Linked DNA regions of Homo sapiens. The protein of the gene in region 1 purifies or fractionates together with the protein of each later gene. This does not show direct contact. Each region holds a gene or a part of one and is shown in the gene's direction. Other genes may lie near its edges.

Region 1 (3,754 bases):
GGGAGGCAGAGGTCGCAGTGAGCCAAGATCACACCACTGCACTCCAGCCTGGCGATAGAGCAAGACTCGTCTCAAAAACAAAAAAACAAACAAAGAAGGTTGAATACAAATACAAAGCAAAAGTTTACATCATACAGACTTGGTAGATATGTTTTTAAAAGTAAAAATAAAAGACTGAAATTGGCCAGAATTTATTTCTAGGGACCCAGCTGTCAGTGCAGACTCCGTGTAATACCTAGACTTGGTGTGAGGCATGACTGAGTATGGTTCAGTTTCCTCCTCTAATCCCGTAAGATATTAGTTCTCAAGAAAAGAGCCCAGGGAATTTTAATTTTTACTTTGGATCCCGAGCAGGCATATTTCTCTTTGGCCTAGCAGAATTTCTTTCTAGATCTGGATCTGTTCTTTGTAATGATTTTTGATAAACAATATTCAGGATGTAAAATGCTTAGCTATCATTTGACTGACTCCATCATCAGGCTTTCTCCTACATGTTCATTTTATCAACCCTATAAGGTAGGAACTAGCCTCTCCATTTTACAGATGAGAAACCTGAGGTGGTTCCAAAGAATTGGGTAATTTGCCCAAGGTTCCTGTTTGCTTGGATTGGATTGCAGCCTGACTCTTCCCACCACTCTGTGTGCTGCCTCAGATACTATAGGATATGAGTTCTTCCTAGAGTTCTTCTGACTTTGAGAGTAGCTACAGCTGGTTTCCCTGAAGGCAGGAGTTCCTAACCTTTTGGGGTTGTGGATCCCTTTGAGAATCTGGTGAAAGCTATGAAGACCTTCCAGAAGGATGCACATACTATACATGCCATTTTGCATACAGTCTCTGGGTATATCGACCTGTCAATGTCCATTGACCACCCCCACCCCCCAGTTAAGAATTACCCACTTCTGGCTGGGCGTGGTGGCTCAAGCCTGTAATCCCAGCACTTTGGGAGGCCGAGGCTGGTGGATCACCTGAGGTTAGGAGTTCAAGACCAGCCTGGCCAACATGGTGAAACCCCTTCTCTACTAAAAATACGAAAATTAGCCGGACATGGTGGCATGTGCATGTAATCTCAGCTACTTGGGAGGCTGAGGCAGGAGAATGGCTTGAACCCGGGAAGTGGAGGTTGCAGTGAGCCAAGATCATGCTACTGCACTTCAGCCTGGGCGACAGAGTGAGACTCTGTCTCACCAAAAAAAAAAAAAAATTACCCACTTCTTGCCAAAATGCAGCTTCAAGAAATGTAGGAATGTTCTAGGACAGTGAGACTAAAACAGAAGCCTCTGTTAGCCATCAAAGGCACTGACATCTTACTGTCTGCTGTAAATGGCACTCCACTGGGCGGCATGCAGTATATTTGACTCACACATCAACTTTAGCCCTTAACCCCAGTGGGAAAACCACTGTAAAGATCTGGATACCAGGGGCCACATGTGTGCTGATGCCTGTGGTTTGGTGGGGCTACAACAGGAAATTCCTGCTTTGGAAAGACAGAAAGCAGATAGCCAAATTCTCTCTACCACATTTTGGAAACTATGTGTTTGAGTCTGATCAAGCATGATTTAGATTCAAATTCAGAAACCATGTATTAGCCTTAGTTATGTGCCAGGCAGTCCTGCACTGGATCCGTTCATGTGAATGGCTCTGTTGAGCCCTCACCAAGACAAATACATCTATAAATGCCTGTTGGGGGTTCAATATTTAAACAAAATGGCATATACTCTTCAGGCAAACAGGAACTCTTCAGAATTCTCTGCTGTCTATTTGCGTAGGGAATTGACAGTTCTCACTTAGGCAAAATGACTTGTGTGCCAAGATATAGACTTTGGTTTCTTGAGCGTAGCTCAGTGTTCCCCAACTTCCATATTCATCAAAATTATGCATACGGTTGAACACTCAAAGCTAGACATAGTGTGATGTAAAGGATTTTTTCAGGCTATCTTCTGGGTTGTTGAGGTGGGGCATAATGCATGTGAAATTGTTTCTTGGAATGAGAGCCTAACAAAGGGGAGGACTGTGTTATATTCCGACCACTGAGCTCTGTATTGCTTGACACTGCCTTTCAACCTCTGAGAAATAAAAGTTCACATACCTTAAGTCGATGGTCATGAGAGACCAGGTCAGGGATGGAGTGTGAATGTTGTGAGCTCATTACTGTTACTGCAAAAGAGCCAAAAGTAGTGTTTCAGTATGAACTATTTTTATACACACACAAATATCTTTTCTTCTTTAAACTAGAATCAGGTGCTCTGGTTTTCATTTTATAAATGGAAGGGAAACCCTAAGGAGAGTCTGGTTTTATGTTTTAGCTTTATTTTTTAAAAATATATGGTACCTCCTTGAGAATCTGATGAAAGCAGACATCCTGCTGCCTCTTCCAGATGTGCCTAAGCCTGTGTACACACTCACACACACACGTGCACACTCACAGAGACGCACGTTCACATTCAGTTACCGAGAACTCATGGACCTGTCTGACCTCTGAAGCCAGTCTGCCTGGGTTGAAATCAAGTTCCACCACCTACTGGCTCTGTGGCTTTGGCCATATTATATAAAGTGTACCTCAGTTTCTCAATCTGTAAAATAGTGCTGGTGATCCTCCCTAATAAGATGGATTGCAGGATTAGCAGAGATAATAAAGTACTTAGGAAGTTTTGGCACATAGTAAATTCAATCAGTGTTAGCTATTTTTTTATTATTTCATTGGTACTTTATGTTATCCAAGTACTCTTTATTTGCAAATTTGTAAATTTAATCACATTAAATATTAATTTTTAAATACTAAACATTCAATTTTCATCATTTTTTAGTAAAGTAGACCTTATTAAGACATTTAAACAGGTCCTACATTATAAACATAATTTTTGCTGTGAATGGAATAGAGCCACTGAAATGTACAGTGACCCTTTAGCCAGTAAGCTCATGCAAGTTTTAGCTCTAAGAAAAAAAAAACACTACTCTGAGACATTTACCAATATATTTGACCATGTAACTTTTTGTTTCCTGGGTCATCTTAATGAAAGAATGCTCCAACTTGAGAAATTCTGCTCTGTGCCAAAAGTTGGCTTTTTTTCTTTCCTTTTAAAAGGACTTATTAATTGTTCTTTATGTTTGCAATATGTTTATAGCTTAGGAATTATTTTATGGAGTATCAGAAAAGGTTATAGATTTACAAACAAACCTTAAGCTTGTGGAGCAAAAAATAAGGCATTTGTTATGTTCTGTACTTCTTGTGATTCTTGACTATATGAGTGCAAATGGCTTATTGAGTTATTGTTGAGAAATATAAAAAGCTAACTGATAACTTCTCCGTTAAAATTTTACAAAAACTTAAACACTTCTTTCAGGCTGCAGAAGATGTCAATGTTACTTTCGAAGATCAACAAAAGATAAACAAATTTGCACGGAATACAAGTAGAATCACAGAGCTGAAGGAAGAAATAGAAGTAAAAAAGGTATTGAAAATAATTATTAGAAGAATAAAATTTTTTTATACTATAGCTACTAAAACTGAACTCAGTTAACAAGTGAATATATATTTCTCTGGGCTGTTTGTTGCAGATGAATGACGCGATCCACTCTAGTTAAGCAGAAAGTCATTTTTTTTTTAAGGGATATGCGATAACTTACAGAGTTGTTGAGGAGCTTGAGTCTAGACCGAGGTTCCAGGAACAAGTCTCGGAGAACTTGGCTGGCGGTGGAACAGCTGTTGCCTCCACTGATCCCAGAGTCAGCTGTCTTCCCAATGAGGAAGCCACCC
Region 2 (3,754 bases), on another chromosome or scaffold:
GAACCCTGTATCTACCACAAATACAAAGATTAGCTGAGCATGGTGGCACTTGCCTGTAGTCTTGGCTACTTGGGAGGCTGAGGCAGGAGAGTCGCTTGAACCCCGGAGGTGGAGGTTGCAGTGAGCCGAAATCATGCCACTGCACTCCAGCCTGGGCAGCAGAGCTAGACTCTGTCTCAAAACAAAAGAAACTTTGGTTTAAAGTAAGTATCTTTTTCTTTTTGAGACGGAGTTTTCGCTATATCGCCCAGGCTGGAGTGCAATGGCCCGATCTTGGCTCACTGCAATCTCCGTCTCCTGGGTTCAAGCGATTCCCCTGCTTCAGCCTCCTGAGTGACTGGGATTACGGGCGCTTGCCACCACGCCCTGCTAATTTTTGTGTTTTTAGTAGAGACGGGGTTTTACCATATTTGCCAGGATGGTCTGGAACTCCTGACCTCCTGATCCGCCCACCTCAGCCTCCCAAAGTGCTGGATTACAGATATGAGTCACCACACCCGGCAGGTTAAAGTATCTTAGAAATAACTTTAAAGATTATCTAATTAAATGCTTTCTTTTTTTAAAATGAGGAGCTGAACTTCAGGTAGATTAATTAAAGTGTTTAAGTTTAGACTTTAAAGTACATTTTTTTTTTTTTTTTGAGACAGAGTCTCGCTCTGTTGCCAGGCTAGAGTGCAGTGGTGTGATTCTGGCTCACTGCAACCTCCGCCTCTTGGGTTCAAACAATTCTGCCTCAGCCTCCTGAGTAGCTGGGACTACAGGCGCATGCTACCATGCCCGGCTAATTTTTGTATTTTTAGTAGAAATGGGGTTTTACCGTGTTGGCCAGGATGGTCTCAATCTCTCCTCTTGATCCGCCCGCCTTGGCCTCCCACAGTGCTGGGATTACAGGCGTGAGCCACCGCCCCTGGCCTCAAAGTACATTTCTTAAGTGCTTACTTTCCTGTTCTGTCTATGATTAGGTACTTAAGTGTAAGTTCAGTAATAAAAATGATTTGTCATGGAAAATGTTTATAGCAATATTATATTGTATGTGAAGAAGATTTATTTAAGTAGGTGCAGTTTTAACCTCCTCTTCCCTGCTTAATTTATTAGGAGTGATACAAATCATAAATCTTTCAGATGTCTGATCAGTGTTGTAAAATAAAAATAAAAATTCAATTGTCATTTAAATACACTCATTCTGGCCAGGCATAGTGGCTCATGCCTGTAATCTCAGCACTGCAGGAGGCCAAGGTGGGTGGATCCCCTGAGGTTAGGGGTTTGAGACCAGCCTGGCCAACATGGTGAAACCCCATCTCTACTAAAAATACAAAAATTAGCGAGGCATGGTGGCGCACACCTGTAATCCCAGTTACGAGACTGAGGCAGGAGAACTGCTCGAACCCAGGAGGTGGAGGTTGCAGTGAGCCGAGATTGCGCCATTACACTCCAGCCTGGGCAACAAGAGTGAAACTCTGCCTCAAAAAAAAAAAAAGTAAAAAATACACTCATTCTAAGTGTCATGCATTGTTCTAATAGGAGGACAACTCACATGTGAGAAATCTAGTAAATTATTTTACTTTTGTTTGTTCTAATTAATACATTATTAACTTCGTACATTTCACTTTTTTTTCTTTTAAAAGCATATTGCCCTTGTGAGAGAGAATAGGTCTGCTTCATATTCTGTAAGCAGAAAAAAAGGAATGGAAAAGCCCTTAAGTACAGGTCACATTCCATTACAGTGAGCTAAAAGGAGAAGACTGATTTTTTTTTTTTTTAAGTTGGGGGGAGGTACAGGAGGAGGGTTTTTCTGGAATTTGGTCTTTGAGTATTACTTAGTAAGTAGACCATTACTTCAGATTTGGAGATCTTTTAGTTAGAATGGAATTTGACCTCAGTCTCGGGATGACTTGTTTTGTGATTGATTTGAAGAAAGAATAACATGTGTAAAATTTAATAATGACTTTGGAATGACATCATGAGAAGTAGACCTGCTCATCACTGACTAATCCATATCTTTATGGTTCAGAATTAGATTATGTTAAATTGTTCATCTGATTTGCTTTCTCAGAATGAATAATGTAGCACAAGTAAATTTTATGTCCAAGCTCATATATTTCATTTTAGTTTAAGAGGATAAGGATCCCAATTTGAGAGTTTGTTACTGGGACACAAAAGAATTGGAACAAAGTAGAACCCTTGAATATGTGTCTGTGTAGTATGAAATGCATTGTTGGCATTCACTACAGGATAATTTTATCCTTAATGTGAATATCCTTAGGTCTTAAAACAGTAATGCCAGCTTTATTAACATGTTGTACTTGGATTTCACATCACTGCGCTAGCCTTTGTTTGCAATAGCTAAAGAATTCCTTTTTCAAAATAGAAAAAACGTTTTACTCCCTTTGGGCTTTTGAGCTACAGTGAAGTTTTAATTTTTAATTAGAATAGTTTCATTTATTAAACGTTCTGCAGAAGTGTTAGGAGAGTTGTTTTTTGTACATATTTTCCAAAGTGCTACAGATAAGTTGTTTTCCATACCAAGAATTTTGGAGTTTAAAGGCTAGGATATGAATTAATAAATAGTAGAATGGTATTATTTCCAGAAGGTTTATTTCATATAAATTACGTTTCTTAAAAGAAGTGTGGAGTTTTAAATGTTTGGATAAAGTTGAGCTTCTACATGATTTCAGACTTCTGTTTTAAATTTGACTTTAGTGCTGTCTGCATCTCACCGGGAGTATGAGTTTGACCCTGTATTGTAGGGGCATGTAAGGTGAATAGCGTTTGTTGTTTGGCTAGCGTATTAGTGCCCTGAGAGGAAGAAAAGACTTGCTGAGTATTAGTCTGGTCATGAGGATGTTCTCTTTCTTGATGCTAAACCTGAGATATCTATTTCTGAATTTATAGTCGAGTAATTTTGGGTATCATTGTGATTCACTTCTTTAATTCTAGTCTTTACCTTACTTTGTTTTTTCTTTTCCATTTTGAGTGTTATTTGGGAATTCTGACTAGAATATTACTTTTTCCCAAATTTTCATTTTAAAACCGTAATAAAATGGTTATAATAAAATCCAAAACTTCATTTTTCTTTTAGAACATGCAGTAGATTTTCCCATTGCTGAAATTCAGGTCTCATTGCTTCTTGCCTGGACTTTTATGATAGCATCTTAACTGTTCTTTCTTCCTGCCTTCATTCTGTCTGTCCAAATCCATTCTTCACATATCTTTCAGAATTAATCACATCAATATTCTTCCTAAAGTCCTTTGTTCATCCTCTGTTGTCCACAGGATAAAATCTAAACTTGTTGGCCTTGCATTCATGGTTATTCATAATCTGTTCTTAATTTACCCTTTGCCTCAAGTCCCACCACTTTCTTTTTCCAGGGTTAGGATAGCATGTATATTTCATCTCATGGACCTACCTCCTTCTACTAGTTTGTGTTATATGTTGAGAAGAATTTTGAGATGTCAAATGGGTTTTAAACATGCTTTAATTGATTAGTGATGTCTGTTACACAGTGAGGGTAGAAGAGTAGTAGCACATGTACTAGAAATTGTTATCCTACCCTTGCCACATAGGTTTCCTCACACATGTTATGTTTTTGTGCTTTTTTGCTTTTGCTCAGTCTTTGGCGAATAACATTGTCCTTGGCTGGCAATATTCCTCTTTTCCTTGTGAAATTCTTATCCTTCAAGACATAGCTCTACTCTTACTTTGCCTCTGAAGATTTTTTCAGCCCCTGGGGCAGACTCATTCACTCTTTCCTTG

What was found. Proteins that work in one complex are often made in the same cells at the same time.
Region 2: the proteins of PFDN4 (region 1) and PFDN1 purify together in Homo sapiens (affinity purification with mass spectrometry; 6 studies listed by BioGRID and IntAct, with this or other methods). This does not show direct contact.

Annotation. Positions count from the first base shown.
Region 1 is NC_000020.11:54,211,010-54,214,763, forward strand, and holds part of PFDN4 (prefoldin subunit 4), read left to right. Parts: intron 1-3,341; coding exon 3,342-3,449; intron 3,450-3,754. UniProt on the Homo sapiens protein: Binds specifically to cytosolic chaperonin (c-CPN) and transfers target proteins to it. Binds to nascent polypeptide chain and promotes folding in an environment in which there are many competing pathways for nonnative proteins.
Region 2 is NC_000005.10:140,296,482-140,300,235, reverse strand, and holds part of PFDN1 (prefoldin subunit 1), read left to right. Parts: intron 1-3,754. UniProt on the Homo sapiens protein: Binds specifically to cytosolic chaperonin (c-CPN) and transfers target proteins to it. Binds to nascent polypeptide chain and promotes folding in an environment in which there are many competing pathways for nonnative proteins.